Homo sapiens: one gene and its partners. The protein of the gene in region 1 interacts with the protein of each later gene in a biochemical or structural test. Each region holds a gene or a part of one and is shown in the gene's direction. Other genes may lie near its edges.

Region 1 (7,373 bases):
AAAGCAGATGCAGCAGTGATCATAAATAGAAGCGAGTCTTTAGATAAATACCTTAAACAGAGTAAGTTTAGGAAGCTCACACTTACCAGGAGATCTGGCTTGGCAAAACCTAGTTTAGTTATTTTGGTTAATCTACGTATGTTTTGTAAGCATTACATAAAAGTGAGTACTTTTTAAAAGCAGACTGGGGCTTCCTAAAAAACTCCATCGTCCATACATGAAACCACCCCTCACCCACCGCCCCAAGCTTAGTGAATAAGAAAAGGTACTGAGAAAATTCATGTTTCCTTTCTAGCCACTTCAAAGAAATAAAGACAGTATCATTCTCAAGTGTCCACTTACCAAAAGCCATGGATTTCTACCCCCTAACTGAAGGATATGATTTTTAGTCACTTAACTTTATTTTCGAGACAATCACAAAAATCTATTTGTGTGGCTTTGAGTCACTAGCTTTGGTGCAAGTGGAACAGAAACAACCTCATTAAAAACAGGACCCACCCTCATTAAAAAATCTTGTATATAAAACGGGACACTCCCAATCCAGAGATCCAAAGATACACACGATTAACACATATGTGTGTATAAAGTTACTAACTGCTCTTTATTCTGCGATTACATCCTTTCTAATTTTATTTGGCACTAAAATATACTTTCCTTTCATGATAGCATGGTCCTAGCGAGTAGCGATTTTTTTTTTTAAAGTTAAATATCCTGGCCAGGCATGGTGGCTCATGCCTGTAATCCCAGCATTTTGGGAGGCCAATGCAGGTGGATTACCTGAGGTCAGAAGTTCGAGACCAGCCTGCCCAACATGGTGAAACCCCGTCTCTACTAAAAAATACAAAAATTAGCCAGGCATGGTGGTGCAGGCCTGTAATCCCAGCTACTTGGGAGGCTGAGGCAGAAGAATCGCTTGAACCAGAGAGGCAGAGGTTGGGCAACAGAGCAAGACTCAGTCTCAAAATAAATAAATAAATAAAGTTAAACATCCTGACTTAAAACATCACAGCTCCACGACAGTACCAACTTTATATTAATTTTATGTCTCCGGGAAATCCCACAGGCTAGAAGGAACTACAGCCATGATTTTCAGCCAAGGCGGAATCTGCCCCATAGGGGACACAGGGCAATGGTATTTCTGGCTGTTACTAAGGCATGGTGAGAGGGGCTGCTACTGGCCTGCAAAAGGCGGAGGCCAGGGATGATGCTTAACACCCTGCAGTGCCGTGCCCAGGACGGCAACAAATATCAACACTGCTGAGGCTGAGAAACTGGACTGGCGTCCATTCTAGCCCTTCATTCGTTCACGTTATTTACTGAGCACCTACTATGTGCCAAAGCGTAATGCCAAGTGCTGCCAAAGCGTTATGTAATGCAGAGTCCAGCAAGGGAGAGGGACAGTCTGGTCTTCCTTGGTTCACCCTCCCACGTTTCAGGAGGCCTGTGGTGGGCTCCAAAGACCCCATTCCAAGGCACACGGAGGAGGAAGTCACGGTGCATATCAGGAAGGAGCAAGAACTCGGGAGTCCCACCCTCCTGGCCATCTCTACCATCTGGGCCTCTTCTTACCCGGGCTTACCCCGACCCTCAGCGGCATCGGTACTGGTCCCCGAGCCCGTGCGACCTTGGGCCTCAGTTTCCCCACCCGCTGCAAGGTCCAACATGGTCAAGGGACACAAACGCATCCAGTAACCTGCAGGGCAAGCCCTTTCGCTTCCCTGGGCCTCAGTTTCCCCTCTCGGCCCCTCCGACCCACCGCCCCAGAGAGTCCTGGAGGGACGAACTGACGCAAAAGCGCCGGAAACAAACAATATGGTCGCGGCTACAACAATAACGTCAACAAGGGTGCCCTTGGGGACGCCAGGCCCTCGCTGGGGATGAGAAGGCCCCAGGGGGTGAACGCCCGGCCCGCAGGACCAGGCTTGGCGCCCGGAGGCCCGTCCGCCTCCCATCGCCGCCTCGGCCCGTCCAGGCCGCGCGCCGCGCCCCCCCTTCCCCTCGGCGCGGGCCCGAACCGACCTGTGGCGGCTCCCCTGGCGCCGGGCGCCCCGCACTCCAGCTCCTCCAGCATCGCCCCGGCGGCAGCTCGACCTCCTCTCAGGCGGCGGAGGCGCGGGCTCCCCTCAGGCGGCCGCTGCTCTTCGCCCTCCCGCCCGCGCCGCTGCTGCCGCCGCGGCCGCCGCGCTCGTATTTGGCGGGAACCGCGGCGACCCCCGCAGTCCGCGCGCCAATTGGGCGAGCCCGGGTCACGTGACGGCCCGCCTCGGGAATTGAGGGGCGCCGGGGGCATCCTCGCGAGATCCGTGACTTCCATTCCTCCCAGGGCTCGCCCATTGACATATCCGCGAGGGACTGGGCTTCCCCTCGGAGGCCTGTCATTGGCTGGGAGGAGCTGCCCTGCGATTGGAGGAAGGAGGTGTCAAGCTCATTGCTCTGCGCTGCGACTGGCTGATCGCGTGGGATAGTCCCTAAGAGGAGGGAGGCCCAGGCTCTTACGTCACCAGAACATTTTACGCAAGGCGCAGATGACAACTTGAAAGTGGGATTTAGATGAGGAACCTGGAGTTTTGAGTTTATCCTAATGGGACATCGGCTAAATATAGCAACAGCAATTAAAATTATAAATTGCTTTCTACAAGAACAATAAAACGAAGTCTGGGGAGCGCTTCGGAAGTATTTGACATTCAGTAAATAACATGTAGAATGAGTGAACGAAATGGACGAAATGGATCGTTTCTGGTTTAATCCTCAGGAAATTGGCACATGCTGTTTTCTCTGCCTAGAACAATCTTTTCGCAGCTCTTTTCCTGGCTAATTTATACTTTTCAGATCTTAGATCGTCACCCCAGGAAGCCTTTTCTTCCCCAACCCTGACAATATCAAGTGCCTACAACACTGTTCTTTTCCTTAAAGCAATTACAGCTGTGTCTATTTATTAGTTTGTTATTTGACTAATGAATTAATTTCTGCCTTTTGTCATTAGTTCTGGCGAGGGTAGGACTCATTCCTCACTGGAACCCCAGGACCTGTTAGTAACTGATCATATTTACCAGGTCAATAAATGTTTGAGTGAATGTATAAATATTTGATTGAACTGTGTAGATCAAGCAGATTAAAAGCCTCACACAAAACAGAGAACTTCAGTGTCAGCCTGTGAGTGTAGAAACAGGTTTTCTTTCTTTCTTTCTTCCTTCCTTCCTTCCTTCCTTCCTTCCTTCCTTCCTTTCTTTCTTTCTTTTTTCTTGAGACGGAGTCCCTAGTAGCTGGGACCACAGGCGCCCGCCACCACGTCCGGCTAATTTTTTCTATTTTTTAGTAGAGACAGGGTTTCACCGTGTTAGCCAGGATGGTCTCAATCTCCTGACCTCGTGATCCGCCCACCTAGGCCTCCCAAAGTGCTGGGATTACAGGCGTGAGCCACCGCCCCTGGCCCTGAATTGCATTCTAGAAGCATCTTTCTGGCTGCCATGACAAGGAAGAATTGGAGGGGAGGACTGGTGGAAAGTATGGTCAAGGCATGAAGACAGACCTAGATGTCTAGATGTGTCACGTGGGCAACTGAATGGATGAACACAGGACAGAGAGAGAGAGGAAGAGAGGTGGCCGGGCACGGTGGCTCATACCTGTGAGACCAGTACTTTGGGAGGCTGGATTTGGTGGGGGGGTTGGGGGTTGGATCACCTGAGGTCAGGAGTTCGAGACCAGCCTGGCCAACATGGCGAAACACTGTCTCTACTAAAAATACAAAAATTAGCCTAGCATGGTGGTGCGCGCCTGTAATCTCAGCTACTTGGGAGGCTGAGGCAGGAGAATCGCTTGAACCCGGGAGGCGGAGGTTGCAGTGAGCCGAGATCACGCCACTGCACTCCAGCCTGGGAGACAAAGCAAGACTCCGTCTCAAAAAAAAAATAAATAAATAAATAAAAATGGGAGGGGGCTGAACACTTAGACGAACTGGATTTAGCTAAGATGAGTAAACAGGAATCTGAAGAATCGTAAGCAGGGGCCCCTTCTACTTCCCAACCTCCCTGGCCAGGTTTAAACTAAGCGCGTTTTCCAAGACGTTAGGGTCACCTCCACGACTCCAGGGGGCGCTGCAACTGCTACGGCCCCTCTAGGCTCGCCCCGCTCAACTCACTGACAGAGGCGGCCTCTCCCGCGGTAGACAATGTGCACGTGCGCTCTTCAGCCGGCAGAGGGCGCGCGTGCGCAGACGGGGCCGGGGGCGCGCGCGGGGGCCGGGGGCGCGCGCGGGGGCCGGCACCGGAAGCGTGCGGTTGCCATGTAATATCCTGGCCGCGCGGGCGCGCGAGCGGCTGAGGCGGCGCCGGGGCGGGCGCGGAGCTGGCAAGCGGGTGGCGGAGGCGGCGCCGACGGGGACTGCTGAGGCGCGCAGAGGGTCGGCGGCGCCCGGGAGCCTGTCGCTGGCGCGGTCCGGGCGGGAGGCTCGGCGGCGGGCGGCAGCATGTCGGTGGCGGGGCTGAAGAAGCAGTTCTACAAGGCGAGCCAGGTGAGCGCAGGCCCAGGCGGGAGCCGAGTACCGGGCCCCGGGCTGCCCGGATGAGGGAGCCAGGCCCGACCTGGCCCGGGAGGGGGCCGGGGGGACCGAGGTGGGGACGTTGGCGCGTGTCCCCTGCCAGGTGGGAAGACCAAGGGACGGACGGGGGCGACGAGGTGGCCCAGGCCCTGCCCGCCATGCGGGCTCCAGAAGCGGGGACAGAGCCCCTGGGAGGAGGGGAGAGGCACCCTGGGCTGCCCAGGGACGCGGACCTCTCCCCTCCTTCTCTCCGCTGCAAAGGCGGGGTGCGGGGAGAGAAGGGGAAGAGAGGAGTCCCGAGGCTGTCGACACAGGACTCTTGCCAGATAACCCAGAGCCAGGGAAAAGTTGCGTCTAGAGCAGTTACGTTCAAAATCCTCTGGATGGGCAAGGTACAAAGTTGAAAAGGTAGAGGAAGAAGTCAGTTTCCCCTCTCTGCTCCTCGGGCAGCCAGCCCTTCTCCCCAGAGACAAGCGACTGTCATCGACTCCGTATGTCCCTTTCCTAAGATACGTGTGTGCCTTTCCTTTAAAAACACGTACCCTGTGATAGCATATGCCACAGAATCCTGTGTGCTGTGTTTTTCATTGCTTGGAGATCACACTGGAGCGGGATTTCTCCCCCTCCGTCGGCACTGTTGACATCTGGGGCTGGATTGTTCTCCGTGGTGGGGCCGTCCTGGGCACTGCGGGGTGCTGAGCAGCGCCCCTGGCCTCCACCCACTCCGGGCCAGGAGCACCCCCAAGTCGTGACAACCAAAAATATCTTGAGACATCACCGTGTGTCCCCTTAGAATCAGTCCTCCTTCCCTCCCTTCGTTCCTTCCTTCCTTCTTTCCTTCCTTCCTCCCTCCCTCCTTGCCTCTCTCCCTCCCTCCCTTCTCTTCTTTCCTTCCTCCCTTCCTTTCCTGTCCCCCAGGACTACTGCTCTAGACCATACTCCACACTTCTTGGATTTTTTTTTTTTTTTTTTTTTTTGAGAGGGAGTCATGCTCTGTCGCCCCAGCTGGAGGGCAGTGGTGCAATCTCGGCTCACTGCAAGCTCCGCCTCCTGTGTTCAAGCAATTCTCCTGCCTCAGCCTCCCCAGTAGCTGGGACTACAGGCATGCGCCACCACGCCCGGCTACTTTTTGTAATTTTAGCAGAGACAGGGTTTCTCCATGTGCCCCAGGGTGGTCTCGAACTCCTGGCCTCAAGTAATCCGCCTGCTTCGGCTTCCCAACATGCTGGGATTATCGACGTAAGCCACCTGCCTGGCCTACTTGGCTCTTTTTAATGGGTACATTGTATTTCATTCCATGACATATACCATAATTTATTTAACCAGTTGTCAGTTGATAGATATCTCTATTGTTTACCGGAATTTTCTGTTACCATTACTACAATAAATAGCCAGTGAATATCTTTGCTCACCAGTGGGATTAGTTTTATAGGATGAATTCCCAGAAGTAGAATGCTGCATCCCAGCCTAAGTGCATTTGATATGGACAGATAAAGGGTTTTTTTTGGAAACTCCAGGGCCCACTGCTCATGAATCTGGTGAAAGCTGTGGATCCACTCTCCAGAAAACTGGGCACATTTAAAATTTTCACTTTGCAATTTCGAATGCAAGAAGCCTCAAATTTGGCCGGGCGCGGTGGCTCATGCCTGGAATCCCAGCAGTTTGGGAGGCCGAGGCGGGCGGATCACTTGAAGCCAGGAGTTTGAGAGCAGCCTGGGCAACATGGCAAAACCCCATCTCTACTAACAATACAAAAATTTTGTATTTTTGCCTGTAACCCCAGCTACTAAGGAGGGTGAGACAGGAGAATCTCTTGAATCCGGCAGGCAGAGGTTGCAGTGAGCCGAGATTGCACCACTGCACTCCAGCCTGGGTGACAGAGCGAGACTCCGTCTTGAAAAAAAAAAAAAGACAAGAAGCCTCAGATTGTTGAATCCTATTGGTCCGTGTACTGCAGGGTGAGGTTGTGTGGAATTTGTGTAGATAGAGTCCACCGAGGAATGAGCAATGATCTTAGCAAATGCTTGGGCCAAGGTGGCAAACAGGGTTCTCTGCCCACAGTTCGGAGATGCCCAGTGGGAGCAAAGAGAAACGAGTCCCCAGTAACACCCAGCAGGTACCTTTGCCCCTGGAAAGAAAAAAGTAAGGACCCTGCCAGGTGCTGTGGCTCATGCCTGTAATCCCAGCACTTTGAAGGCTGAGGCAGGGGTTCCCTTGAGTTCAGGAGTTCAAGACCAGCCTGGGCGATATAGGGAGATCCCATCTCTACAAAATATGAAAAAGTTAGCCAGGTGTGGTGATGTGCACCTGCAGTCCCAGCTACTTGGGAGGCTGAGGCAGGAGGACCACTTGAGCCCAGCAGTTCAAGGCTGCAGTGAACTATGATCGTGCCACTGCACTTCAGCCTGGGCAGCAAAGTGAGACCCTGTCTCAAAAAATAAATAAAAAAAGTAACAACCCTAGTGGTTGTTTAGGGATATAGATACTTAGGGTCTATCTCTACACCCCAGATGATGGTTAAACCCTGGAGAAAGATTTAATCCAGACGAATTTTAGAGTTGTCACTGAGAACAGTCCCACCCCCTTGCCCCAGCACTTTGAAATCAGATGGCCTGGCCCTGGGTTAGACCTTGCCCAGCAGGCGTCAGACCTTCACCTGCTTGGTTAGAGCACCATAGAGTACTGCTCCCTAGCAGGAAAGATGTCCTCAGAGGTCTTGGAGGAATTCCTGGGCCACTTTGTTCCCTGCTATAGACAGGTCTCTGGAAGCCACCACCCCCACTCCCAGCGATCAGGGCCTGTGCCCATATTGTCCTGAGCTGACACCCTCTTTAGA
Region 2 (7,000 bases), on another chromosome or scaffold:
TTACCAAAAGGCCCTAAAACATTTATTTTGGCATTAATGTGCATTCTAAGGAGAAAGAATATTAAAATATTGTCTAAGCTATTCTATTTTCATTAGATTTAGACTATGTGAGCAATTCAGAAAAAAAATGTTGGAATATTGACTCTTTCTGTAAAGCTAACATAAATGGATGTCTAATCTCTTGGAATGTCATTATCTTTCCTACTATAAGCTTTACAGTAATACTTAACATATTAATATTTAAGAGCTAACAAACCTTCTTAAGTCATTTGACTTTTAAAATTAATTTGGCCTTCATTTTGGAGTGATACCAAGGTTTGTATTGTGCTGTACAGTGTTCACTTAAAATCTTCACACTTTAAAAATGCCTATTGTATTCAGAAGCTGTGCTTGGAAAATATCAATGTGTTCTCTTCATCTTCAATAATCCCAGCTCCCTGAATTTCAGTGCATTCTGCATATTCATCTACCTGAAGAATCTTCTAAAATCATGTTTTTTCTTTGTTTGTTTGCTTGTTTGTTTTTTGAGACAGGGTCTCACTCTGTTGCCCAGGCTGGAGTGCAGTGGCATGATCTCGGCTCACTGCAACCTCCACCTCCTGGGTTCAAGTGGTTCTCCTGCCTCGGCCTCCCAAGTAGCTGGAATTATAGGTGTGTGCCACCACGCCTTGCTAATTTTTGTATTTTTAGTAGAGACAGGGTTTCATCATGTTGGCCAGGCTGGTCTTGAACTCCTGACCTCAGGTGATTCGCCTGCCTCAGCCTCCCAAAGTGCTGGGATTACAGGCGTGAGCCACCGCGCCCAGCCCTAAAATCATTTTTTATATTAAAGCAAAGTGTAACCCTGTTTTTCACCAAGATTAAGTTTGTACTCCTCAACCTGTCATTTGTCCAGTGTTGATCTCCTTTAAGGAGATCTGGTGTTTCCTCAGTGCCTTCCCAAGCACCATGCTTTTTTCAGCTTCATCATACTGTTGCTTTTTACACCTTCTTCCTCCAAGACAGCTAGAGTGCTGCTTCTCTAATCTGAGCCTGTCAGTCCCACCGAGGTCCTACTCAGGTCTTCTTCCTTCATAAGACTCTGCCCCAACCACTCCAGCTCACCTTTATCTCTACCTTCTCTTCATTTCTCTAGAACTTACTCTGTATCACAAGGTGCATACTTCTTTTTTGCTTTTATTTTTTGAGACATGGTCTTGTTCTGTCACCCAGGCTGGAGTGCAGTGGCATGATCACAGCTCACTGTAATTGAACTCCCTGGAACTCCCGGGCTCAATTGATCCTCCTGCCTCAGCCTCCTGAGTAGCTGGGACTACAGGCGCACACGACTATGCCCAGATAATTTTTTTCGTATTTTTTTGTAGATAGGGGGCTTCCTCATGTTGCCCTGCTGATCTCAGACTCCTGGGTTCATGGTTTCCACCTGCCTCAGGCTCCCAAAGTATTGGGATTACAGGCGTGAGCCACTGCTCGCAGCCAAGACGCATACTTCTTATGTGCTGGTTTTGTTGTTGTCTAAATGCTCATATGTAGGTGTTTTTCTTGGAAAGGGGTGGTGGAAGTGACCTTAGCAGGACTTGGTCTTTATGTACACAAAGTTCCTAATTTCAAGTCTCTACTTGCCCTGGCTTTACTTTAAAAAGTAAATTTTAAACAGACATTTTAGTCAGCATACAGTGTTGAGGATTAGCAATCACTTAATTTTCTTGGCCTTTGCTGAAGTGCCATGAGATACCCAACATGAAATTTTGTCTTTCATACTATTAGCACATACCAAAAGATTGCAAGTAAAAATACAATGAAAATAGTCTCATACAATGGATCCCCTTAGGGACCCACGTGTTCACTAATGCAGCCTCAAGACTCTGTCTTTATGTCGATAGGATTCTAAGCTTAAATCAGTCATGATGTTATGACATTATCAGTGTTACAGTCACCTGGGCAGCTTTTACAAATACTACTGTCTGGGCTCTAGCCCCCTGGATATTCTGATATAATTAGATTGTGATGCTCATTTCTGAGCAAAGTGTATTTAGGCCTTTCTATGATAGATTAGGGGATTGCTTTTTTTTGGCTTGCAGATTTTATCCAAAATAACCATGTTTCCAGAATTTTGGTGCTGTTGTCTTTTATGGGGCTACTAAGTAGTTTTCTTGAAACTGTCAGGCTGAACCAAGTGCTAATACTCTTGTAGCACTTTGAGTATAGTGCCTTCATATCATATGGAATTCTGCTCAGGTTCTGTGTCTGGATGCCGCACTCCTTGAGGAAAAGGCCTGTGTGTCTTAGTAATATTTGCAGTCTTAGTGCTTAGTGTAGTGTTTTACTCATACTTGAAGAAAATGTGATTATTAAATGAATGACAGCAAGGGAAAGACTAACCTAGATTACAAAGTTGATAAACATGCAGTTATTATGTTTGAAAATAAGAGATATTTTTCCGTAAATTTTTGTTGTTGTTTTTTGAGCAGAGTCTTGTTCTGTCACTGAGGCTGGAGTGCAGTGGTATGATCTCCGTGCACTGCAACCTCCGCCTCCTGGGTTCAAGTGATTCTCGTGCCTCAGCTTCCTGAGTAGCTGGGACTACAGGCGCACACCAACATGCCCAGCTAATTTTTGTATTTTTAGTAGAGATGGGGCTTCACCATGTTGGCCAGGCTGATCTGAACTCGTGAACTCAAGTGATCCACCTGCCTTGGCCTCCCAAAGTGCTGGGATTATAGGCGTGAGCCACCAAGCCCAGCCCTATAAAACTTATTTCATATACATACATGCATACATTATATATATATATATATATATATATATTTTTTTTTTTTTTTTTCTTTGAGATGGAGTTTCATTCTTGTTGCCCAGGCTAGAGTGCAATGGCACGATCTCGGCTCACTGCAACCTCCCCTTCCCAAGTTCAAGTGATTTTCCCGCATCAGCCTCCCAAGTAGCTGGGATTACAGGCATGCGCCATCATACCTAGCTAATTTTGTATTTTTAGTAGAGACAGGGTTTCTCCATGTTGGTCAGGCTGGTCTTGAACTCCCGACCTCAGGTGATCCGCCCGCCTTGGCCTCCCAAAGTGCTGGGATTACAGGCATAAGTCACTGCACCTGGCCTATTTCCTATGTTTTTGAGAATTGTTATCTGACTGAACTGCTGATATAAAAGATGTATATTACACATTATTTAGATTTGTTATTGACAAATCCTATTGGAAATAACTGTTAACCACATTATTAAGGTTCTTCTGAAATGCCAATTTGAAATGTCTATGATAAATGTTACTTATTATTTCTATAAGTACTATTAATTTGTTTCAAAATTACTTTTTTTTTTTTTCCAAGATGGAGTCTTGCTCTGTCACCCAAGTTGGAGTGCAGTGGTGCAATCTTGACTCACTACAGCCTCCGCCTCCTGGGTTCAAGGAGTTCTCCTGCCTCAGCCTCCTGAGTAGCTGGGACCACAGGCGCCCCCCACCACACCTAGCTAATTTTTCCTTATTTTTAGTAGAGACAGGGTTTCACCATGTTGGCCAGGCTGGTCTCAAACTCCTGACCTTGTGATCCACCCACCTCAGCTTCCCAAAGTGCTGAGATTATAGGCGTGAGCCACCACGCCTGGCCTTCAAAATTACCTGTTTAAAATAGAAAATAATTTCATTATTATTTCTTCTGTTGCATTGATTTATTTAAAACACTTTCTAAAAAGTTCTTACCCTTAGATAACAGTTAATATGTTTTTTAGGAGTGTACCCATTTTTAGCATTACTCAGTTTTGAAAAGTATTTGTACAGCAAGTGTTTGATTAAATTGCAATTTGATGTCTTTGGAATAGTGGTTCAGTGTAGCAGGTGAGCTCTGTGACTAGTTTGCTGCATCTACCAGTTTAAGCAGCTTGTGTGATGGTTAGCAAGTTATAAACAGGTACATATTTTTTTCCTGGAAACAATTTATTAAGAGATAAAAGATGTCTCTCAGCTTTGTGTACAATTCATTGTTCTTAGTCTTTCTCCAGTTTACACACACATACACAAAGACTGTCACAGGAGAAGGACAAGCTGTCAGTCTGACATACATGCATTAAATTCACAATCTCAATATTTTACAGCCCATCTCAGGCTTCAATAAAGTGAATGATTCATTTCATAATTATATCCTAAATAGAAGATGGAGTAAAGAAAAGGTCAACATATGGGAAATGGAGGATAACTCTAAAAACAGAAGTTATGGACCTCTACGTAAAAGATGGGGAGGTGAGGTGGCGCCATGGATTCCTAACTCTTAAAATTAAAGCTTTTGCTCTTTTCCATATTACATGCTAGCATGGGAGTAAGGATGAATTGCTTTTATCTGTCTAGTGGTAAGATTACTTTCAGGCTTTTCAAGTAGCATAATTTGAGTCAGATTAGGACTCAAATCATGCATTTTATAAATAGCAAGGCCATATCACTGCACCTGGTTTTCCTCCAAGTTGTCCTTATGAGATTCTTTGTCTACCTAATTTTTTCTTACAACATAAGTCATAATACTATATATAATACTCAATATAAGTCATAATACTATAGGATGATATTCTGAGATCTTTATTACAGAATATGAAATATCCTCTCTTTTCTATAAAACTGCGTAAAGGACTAATCGTAGTGAAATGATAATGGCTACCACTTACTGGAAGCTTATTCTGCCAGTCACAACATTAAGCCAGAGGTTTTTAAACTTCATTGTTTTATGGTGACCTTATTATCTCATTAAGTTGTTTTTGTTTTTGTTTTTGTTTTTGAGAGGGAGAGTTTCGCTCTTGTTGCCCAAGCTGGAGTGCAATGGTGCGATCTCGGCTCACTGCAACCTCTGCCTCCCGGGTTCAAGCAGTTCTCCTGCCTCAGCCTCCCAAGTAGCTGGGATTACAGGCATGTGGCACCACGCCCAGCTAATTTTGTATTTTTAGTAGAGACGGGGTTTCTCCATGTTGGTCAGGCTGGTCTTGAGCTCCTGACCTCAGGTGATCTGCCCACCTCGGCCTTCCAAAGTCCTGGGATTACAGGTGTGAGCCACTGTGCCTGGCCTCGTTAAGTTTTTCACAACACCCCTAGGCCACAAACAATACTTAATAGTTCTGTTTATTAAATAGTTAGGTCCAAAAAATATTTGTGTCCCAACAGCTTTTGTAGCTGTTCAAAAAAAAAAATGCAGAAAAAATAGAACATTTATTTTCTTCATAAGTAACCACAATTTACTAATGAGATGTGTGTGCTTGTTGAGCACTGAGCACTAAATAGCTTTTCTTTTTCTTTCTTTTTTTTTTTTTTTAAGATGGAGTTTTACTCTTGTCACCCAGGTTGGAGTGCAATGGCACGGTCTCGGCTCACTGCAACCTCTGCCTACGGGTTCAAGCAATTCTCCTGCCTCAGCCTCTCAAGTAGCTGGGATTGCAGGCACCCGCTACCACACCTGGCTAATGTTTGTATTTTTAGTAGAGACGGGGTTTCACCATGTTGGCCAGGCTGGTCTCGAACTCCTGACCTCAGGTGATCTGCCCACCATGGCCTTCCAAAGTGCTGGGATTACGGGCGTGAGCCACTGCTCCCAGCCTGCATAGCTTTTCAAACCTTGGAACAGAGTACACTGCCGTCCTCATTTCCTGTTCCACATTGATTTTCAAGTGACACTTGCTTTTATCACAGCAACCAGCAAAAACCCGGTTTCACTAATATATATCATCCAAGGAATGCACTGCAATCTAATATGACAACTCAAGCACCTCAGGTTAATAGTTTGGCTGGTTTCCAGCATGTGTTGAGAATCTCAGTGTTTCCTTCTGTTTAAAATATGCAGCTTCCCTGGGAGTTTGCTGTAGTGCCGTGGGGCATCTGAGCACACAGTTCAGGAGATGTGGCATTTGACACACTTTATTTCATTCAGTTCAGATTGTGCTTTTATCCACATTTCAGAGATTTGGAAACTGAGGATTGGAAAGATAACTGCCCCAATGACATAGTCCTACCATTTAATTTTTTTTTACTGTAATTATTGTTTGTGCTGTTGTGAGGCTATTGTATTACCATATATTGTGTGGCTATTATTTTCAGGGGTGGGGAATGAAGTGTAAAAATAAGGGAAGGCGTTAAGGTTAAGAGTGTAATTGGTAGCATTTTCTAATGAGGGAACTGTACACTTGTGTTTTTCCCTACAAACTATTAACATATTAATATATTAGAGGAGAAAGTATGGTTTAATTTACAGTAAAGTCATTAAAAACAAAGTTTCTTTCCTGGGCCAAGTTAAATGTCAGGTTCTAGACTTTTGGATAAATATAGTAGGTGGTAATGCCAAACAGTGTGTGTAGTTTGTTTTTTTTTTTTAATTGCCAAACGCTGTCAACATGATTGCCCTTTAGATAAGTTGCAGTGTCCTGTCTCTTTTAAAGAAAAATTTGCAAGTTGAGGGAAGAAGTGACTTTTTATAGTTGACTTTTTCAGCAGAGAAATCATGAAATTTAGACTTGTTATATATCACTTTATGTTAGGGTTGCAAAAATTCATTTTCTTTTTATAAATACCTTTGGAAGGTGCATATTTATTTTCTTTCTTTTTTTATGTGCCCCTGTAGTCTGAGGAATGTACGTATTTAATAGAAAGTAACTTAAATGTCAACTCTTTAAAAAGAAAATCAACCAAACTTTTTTATTCTGGGTTGGTAGTAGGATTGACCTAGGGTCAAACCAGTAGTTAGTTCTTAAGTGCTTTCATTTCTTCACCACTTAACTTTGCTATGAGGAAATAAAAAGGAAAGGCAGAACTTCCACTCTCACTGAATAGTAAAAACTCTGTGGCTTTTTATTACATCATCTCAGGTCTATCAGATGTTCTAACTTGTCCTATAAAATATACGTAACTCAGGACTATAACGGGAGCTTCTGACCATAGTGGAGTAACAGGAACTAGATTTACCCTCCTACCTTAAGTAACAACAACAAAATGAACAAAATACATGGAATGATTTGCAGACCT
Region 3 (7,000 bases), on another chromosome or scaffold:
GCATGAAAACAGGATAAATTAAGTGTGTTCTGAGAGTGAACAGCAGAGGTTAGCCTCTCCGTAGTGCAGATAGACAAACTGAGCCTCAGAAAAGCAAAGCAACTTGCCCACAGCCCCACAGCTAGGTAGCAGCAAAGCTTCACTGACCTTTCCCTGTCTGGGACCTGCCAGGGAAGCCCTGGAAGTCCCCAACACAGAGAAGGCCAAGACCTATGTGGAGGGTGTCATGGGGAAGAGCTTGGGTTTGGGGGCCAGGATTCAAGTATACTCGGCTGAAGACCTTGACAGGGAATCCCAGGGGCTTCCCCAGGACTTTTCTCCATCTGGAATGGGGCATCCAGAACTGAAGTGCGCGCGCGCGCGCGTGTGTGTGTGTGTGTGTGTGTGTGTCTGTCTGACTGTCTGTCTGTGTAGGCAAGACCTGGTTTCCAATCCCAGTTTTGTCACTCCCCCTCTGAGACACTCTCTCTGGCTCTCTGAGCCTCTATTTCTTTTTTCTTTATTTGTTTTCTTTCTTTCTTTCTTTCTTTCTTTCTTTCTTTCTTTCTTTCTTTCTTTTCTTTTCTTTCTTTCTTTCCTTTCTTCTTTCTTTCTTTCTCTTTCTTTCTTTCTTTCCCTTCCTTCCTTCCTTCCTTCCTTTCTTTCTCTTTCTTTCTTTCTCTCTTTCTTTCTCTCTTTCTCTCTTTCTTTCTCTCTTTCTCTCTTTCTCTCTTTCTTTCTTTCTCTCTTAGATGGAGTTTTGCTCTTGTCACCCAGGCTGGAGTGCAATGGTGCGATCTCAGCTCACTGCAACCTCTGCCTCCTGGATTCAAGGGATTCTCCTACCTCAGCCTCCCAGGTAGCTGGGATTACAGGCACACACCACCACGCCTGGCTAATTTTTGTATTTTTAGTAGAGACGGGGTTTCACCATGTTAGCCAGGCTGGTCTCGTACTCCTGACATCAGGTGATCTGCCCGCCTTGGCCTCCCAAAGTGCTGGGATAACAGGCATGAGCCATAATCGTGCCTGGCCTCTGAGCCTCTATTTCTGCATCTGTAAAATGGAGACAATGGTGATCAGACCTGTTTCATAGGATTGTTGTAAAGGTTCAGGGAGATACTGTGTGGGGGCACCTAGTGAGCATGAGTGCTAGAACTTGAGAATGACCTTAAAGGAGGCTTTAAACCCAGAGGGTCCAAGGGGCAGCCCTCTGGCCACCCCTGCCTCAGACGCACGTCTAAAAATATTAAATTGGGATGGTATGGTGGTTCATGCCTGTAATCCCACCACTTTGGGAGGCTGAGGCGGGTGGATCACTTGAGGCCAAAAGTTCGACACCAGCCTGGCCAACAAGGCGAAAACCTGTACTAAAAATACAAAAAATTAGCTGGGCATGGTGGTGCACGCCTGTAGTCCCAGTTACTTGGGAGGCTGAGGCAGGAGAATTGCTTGAAACTGGGAGGCAGAGATCGCAGGTTGCAGTGAGCTGAGATCACGCCATTGCACTCCAGCCTGGGTGACGAGTGAAACTCCGTCTCAAAAAAATAATAATAATAAATAAAAATAAAAAGATTAAATTGGCCAAAAATCAGGAAATTCCAAATACAAATCCAGATTTCTGGCTTTATTGAAAATTATGCACTCATTAATTCAACTAATACATCTCTGCAAGCTCCTTCTATGAACCAGTTTTCTTGCTAGTGGCCCGGGCAGCAGTGGCAGGGCTGCCCTCCATAGCTCTCCACCTCACCACGTTCACACAGTCCCCTGGCATCCAAGTCCCTTCCTGGCCCTGTGACCATCTGTCCTCAACCCTTTCCTCACCCTTACCCCCAGCAACTGACGAACCACATCCGGGACACACTGCCGGGGCTGCGGAACAAGCTGCAGAGCCAGCTACTGTCCATTGAGAAGGAGGTGGAGGAATACAAGAACTTCCGCCCTGATGACCCAGCTCGCAAGACCAAGGCCCTGCTGCAGTGAGGCTCCCCCAGCTCCTATCACTGAATCCCCGCCCCCAGCCTCTCAGCGTGGGGCTCTCCCAGGGTTCCCTTTGCTGGGCTGCTCCTGCCCCCTCAGGCCACACCACTCTCCCACCAGGATGGTCCAGCAGTTCGCCGTAGACTTTGAGAAGCGCATTGAGGGCTCAGGAGATCAGATCGACACCTACGAACTGTCAGGGGGAGCCCGCATTAACCGAATCTTCCACGAGCGCTTCCCTTTCGAGCTGGTCAAGGTAGGTCAGGCAGCCCTGGGGACAGGATGGCTCAGGACTCCCCCCACCCTCACTCAGGACTCTCTCTGCGTGTGTTTTTGCTGGCCCCCACCCCACAGGCCCTGATGCCCAGCCCTAGGTGTGGGGTGGGCCCTGTCTTGACCTCCCAGGTAGTAGGACAGGCCCTGACCAGGCTTTTCTCTGCTTTTCTACACAGATGGAGTTTGATGAGAAGGAACTCCGAAGGGAGATCAGCTATGCTATCAAGAATATCCATGGCATTAGGCACGTATTGGGGCCTGGGAGGGTGGCTGAACCCCAGAAGTAGGGGGTCTGGGACAGAGGCACAGGGAGTGATGAAGTGGGCCTCCCTCAGGAAGGACTGAAAGCTCTGTTCCCCAGTCCTCTCGACCCCAACTTTCTGGCTCCCTGCATGACAGGCTCCAGCTTGGGGAGGTGGACCCGGGCCACCCCGCCTACTGCAACTTGCTGGGCCAACTGGGCACAGCCCAGGGCGCAGGTGGCCGGGGAAACACCCTCTGGGGCTGGGCCCATCCCCAGGGTGAGATAGCTCCCCCAGTGCCACCCAGGTAACCGGACAAAGATGTCCAAACCACTACGAGGGCCTGGGGTGGAGCATCTAAGTATGAGGCTGTGTCCTTTTATGACGGCCGGGGACTTTGCAATCCTCCACACCCTCCTGTATTCACAGTAGCCCAGAGTCAGTCCCATTCCACCCCACCGCCCTCCTTCTAGGCAACCCGTGGAGTAGGAAACAGGATTGGGAGGTGGAATCTGTTCCTTAAAAGCTTAGATCCCCTTCAGGGACCCAGATCTATGCTGTGTTCATCCAACAAATCCACTGGGCCGGAAAATTTAAAGCACCTACCCTATGCCAAGCAGTGAACAAGACCCAGTGTCCCCTTGCTCTCATGCAGGTTCATTTCCAAGATTTGGCATGGAATTTACTTCCTGATAACTGCACTGGCCAATTCACAGAAAAAAGATCTCTTTCCTAGTCTTAAAACAAAACACTCTATTCCTGGAAAGGCTCTTATGGAGAACCACGTTTGGCAATTTTCAAGCCATTTCTGGCCATAGAACTTCCTATATGCACAGACCCTTACGAGGAAGCAGGACTTACATATCAGATACTCAACCACCTTGTCTTGCCCCAAAGAGCCTCATTAGGGCCGGGCGCGGTGGCTCACGCCTGTAATCCCAGCACTTTGGAAGGCCGAGGCAGGCGGATCATGAGGTCAGGAGATCGAGACCATCCTGGCTAACACGGTGAAACCCTGTCTCTACTAAAAATACGAAAAAATTAGCCGGGCGTGGTGGCAGGCGCCTGTAGTCCCAGCTACTTGGGAGGCTGAGGCAGGAGAATGGCGTGAACCCGGGAGGCGGAGGTTGCAGTGAGCCAAGATTGCGCCACTGCACTCCAGCCTGGGCGACAGAGCAAGACTCCGTCTCAAAAAAAATAACAACAACAACAAAAAACCCTTCATTAGAACCCCTCCCTCCCATTTTACAACTGGGGACACTGAGGCCCAGAGAGGGGTAGTGGAAGGGCCCCTCAGGCAGAGTTCGTGGGCTTGGGGAGGAGCCTCGGCCTGGCCCTCCTGGCCGGCACTGGCCTGTGACACTCTGCCCTTCTCCCGCTCCGGGCGTTCAGAACGGGGCTGTTTACCCCAGACATGGCCTTTGAGACCATTGTGAAAAAGCAGGTGAAGAAGATCCGAGAACCGTGTCTCAAGTGTGTGGACATGGTTATCTCGGAGCTAATCAGCACCGTTAGACAGTGCACCAAGAAGGTAACCCGGAGGCCCGGGCCAGCCCCCACCGCCTCTGCCCCGCCCTGCACTGCTGCCAGGCGCTCCTTCCCCATGTCCCCCCCTGCCTCCTCGGTAGCATGTACAGACCTCAGCGGGGTGGGGAGGCAGGCCACCACTGAATAGGAGACAATGTGCCTCTGAGAGGGCCTCACCCACCCCTGGCCCCCAGGTCTGGGGACCCAGGGATTGGACATGGGTGAGACGGGGATGATGGCTGGCTGTTTACCCCAAGAGCCCACCAAGAGCTCCCCCAGCTCAGAGAATAGGGCTTGAGGGGACCCTGAGCCCCCTCCCTGTCCTCGGAGGTGTCATCTTTGGGAGCTCCAGGGAGGGGTCTGGGGAAACCTTAGCCTTGGAGACAGGTGAAATGCAGGGCCTTCTCGGGCACTGCTCGGTGGGCCTGGGTGGCCAGAGGGGGTGCAGAGGACCCAGGACTAGCAGGTGCCCTGGCTCCCCGCTGTCCTTCATCCTCCCCATACTCATCTCACCCTCACTCAGGACCCTCACACAGGATGCTCACGTAAGACCCTCACTCAGGGCCTCTCCCTCCCTTCCATCCACATCTGGCTTTCCAGGGATAGAGCCCTTCTCCCATCTGCCCCACCATCCAAGCCTCACAGAAGCACGCAGGGAGGCAGGACAGGGAGGACGGTGCCCATTTCACAGCACGAACACTGAAGCTCCAGGAGATCAAGTGGCTTGCCCAAGTCACAGTAGTCAGGAGGTGGCAGAGCTGTTACTTGAAGCCACGGCTCTGGACTCCAAGTCCAGTGCTCCTCGATTCCACCCTCCAGCCTCCCTTCCTTTCCTCTCCCCACTGCTGTCCCGGCCCCTCTCTATCACTACCTCTACTCTTTCTGTCTTTCCTCTTCTCTTTCTGTCTTTTGGTTCCACCAAACCCCTGTGGAGGAGAGGCCAGGAATGCCCCTTGAAGAGAAAGGGAGGGGCGGGACTAGAGCAGGGAGCTGGAGAGGGAGGTCAGGCTGCTATACTGCAACCCTAGGAGGCAGCCTCTGCGCCACGGTTTACGGGAATGGACCCCCCTGGAGTTGTGCAGTGCATGGCCTGGGCAGCTGGATGCGGCAACCCTAGAGATAGGGAATGGTACTGAGGTTTGGAGTCAGGATGAAGCAAATTCTGGGACACTGGGAAACGTAGAATTGAACAGGATGGGTGGATGAGGTCCTGGCCTTGTCCTGGCCTGGGTCAGCTCCTTAGGAGAACCCAAGGCTGTGGACAAAGACGGCACTGGGAGAGAGCAGGCAGCCTCAGTGAGGCCGAGGAGCAGGGGAGCATCCCTGGGAAGAGGATCTGAACTCAATAGGGGTCTTGTACGGAGCAGGGGCTTGGTCCCTCGTACCTCTGGCCATACCTATGGAGCCCAGGGGATGCTTGGCAGCACCTGGGAGGTGCCAACCCCGGGTGGCAAGGGAGGGCCGGTCCCACGCTCACATTGTCTTCTGTTCTCTCTCTCTCTTTATCTGTGTCGATGTCTCTCTCTCTTCCCCCGTGCCCGTGCCATCCTCTCCACCCCTGGATTCCTGTCTCTGCTTGGCTTTCACCCACTTCTCCTCCCCACCCACGGCTGCTCCTCCTCCTGTCCCCACCTCCTCCCCGGGTGCAGGACGGGCCTCTTCACACCTGACCTCGCTTTTGAAGCCACAGTGAAAAAGCAGGTGCAGAAGCTCAAAGAGCCCAGTATCAAGTGTGTGGATATGGTAGTCAGTGAGCTCACAGCCACCATCAGAAAGTGTAGCGAAAAGGTATGACGGCCGCCTGGGCGGGGCTGGGCCTGGCCGTCCATTCCTTGTGGCCACAGCCTCCCGTGGGCAGAAGGATCTGCTGAGCCGGCCTCACGGCTACCCGCAGGGACCCAGCCCTAGTGTTTCCTGCCAGTTTCTAACCCTGGGTACTTGCACTCATGACCCCTCCAGGCCCCCATCCCAGAAGACTTGACTCCAACCCAAGCCTCCTTGGTGGCACCTATGCTAGTGATGAAGATGATGTTAAGGAGATGGCAGCTGTTTACTGAGCACCTACTATGTGCCAAGCACACGCTAAGTGCTTGCCCTTACTATCTGACTCAGTCCTCTCAACCACCCTAAGACGTGGGTAGTGTTGTTATTCCCATTTTGCAGATGGCAAAACAGAGTCTCAGAAAAGAGAAGCAGAGTGTGATTCAGTTTTAGGAAGGACAGAGGAAGGGGTCTGAGGTCAGGGCCTCCTGGGCAGGGGGAGCTGTCCTAGTTCCTCAAAACCAATTTGCCTGAAAGCATATTGGATTACTCACTTTACAGTAATCCGTGCGTGAGAGACAGGGGCGGTCTCTTTTGAGTTGTCTGTGACTTTTTAGATGCCTTTTTCCTATTTGTCTGCTTTTGGGCATTTTGAGGATTTTTAGCCAGGTTGTCTAAAGCAGTTCTTCCCAGGGGAGTGCGAGAGAATCAGTTGCCTGCAGGAGCTTCTCCAGCAGGCTAAATCAGAGGTGCCAGGGGTGAGCCCAGCCTCACCTATATCTGAAGGACTTCCCTATGCTGGTGGGTGGAGGCACATCCACCTTAGCATTGAGTTTCAAATAAGCATCAATCATCTCCATTCCTTTTTTTTTTTTTTTTTTTTTTTGAGATGGAATCTTGCTCTGTCGCCCAGGCTGGAGTGCAGTGGCACCATCTTGGCTCACTGCAACCTCTGCCTCCTGGGTTCAAGTATTCTCCTGCCTCAGCCTCCCGGGTGGCTGGGATTACTAGCATGTACCACCACACCTGGCTAATTTTTGTATTTTTAGTAGAGATGGGGTTTTGCCACGTTGGCCAGGCTGGTCTTGAACCCCTGACCGGAGGTGATCCACCTGCCTCGGCCTCCCAAAGTGCTAGGATTACAAACATGAGCCACCGCGCATTCTTTTTTACTGAGCAGTGTGTTGTGTAATCCTTGTATGTTGCTACATAAAGATTGGTCTCATGCCTTT

What was found. Proteins that work in one complex are often made in the same cells at the same time.
Region 2: the proteins of SH3GL1 (region 1) and SYNJ1 interact in a test that uses a peptide from one of them, tested with the Homo sapiens proteins (one study listed by BioGRID and IntAct).
Region 3: the proteins of SH3GL1 (region 1) and DNM1 form a complex in vitro, tested with the Homo sapiens proteins (2 studies listed by BioGRID and IntAct, with this or other methods).

What each region holds. Positions count from the first base shown.
Region 1 is NC_000019.10:4,397,461-4,404,833, reverse strand, and holds the start of SH3GL1 (endophilin-A2), read left to right. Parts: upstream 1-4,286; 5' UTR 4,287-4,465; coding exon 4,466-4,510; intron 4,511-7,373. Other genes in the region: CHAF1A (chromatin assembly factor 1 subunit A), read right to left, coding at 2,020-2,071. UniProt on the Homo sapiens protein: Implicated in endocytosis. May recruit other proteins to membranes with high curvature.
Region 2 is NC_000021.9:32,718,014-32,725,013, reverse strand, and holds part of SYNJ1 (synaptojanin-1), read left to right. Parts: intron 1-7,000. UniProt on the Homo sapiens protein: Phosphatase that acts on various phosphoinositides, including phosphatidylinositol 4-phosphate, phosphatidylinositol (4,5)-bisphosphate and phosphatidylinositol (3,4,5)-trisphosphate. Has a role in clathrin-mediated endocytosis.
Region 3 is NC_000009.12:128,220,379-128,227,378, forward strand, and holds part of DNM1 (dynamin-1), read left to right. Parts: intron 1-1,818; coding exon 1,819-1,961; intron 1,962-2,082; coding exon 2,083-2,218; intron 2,219-2,414; coding exon 2,415-2,482; intron 2,483-3,872; coding exon 3,873-4,011; intron 4,012-5,656; coding exon of another isoform or gene 5,657-5,795; intron 5,796-7,000. UniProt on the Homo sapiens protein: Catalyzes the hydrolysis of GTP and utilizes this energy to mediate vesicle scission and participates in many forms of endocytosis, such as clathrin-mediated endocytosis or synaptic vesicle endocytosis as well as rapid endocytosis (RE).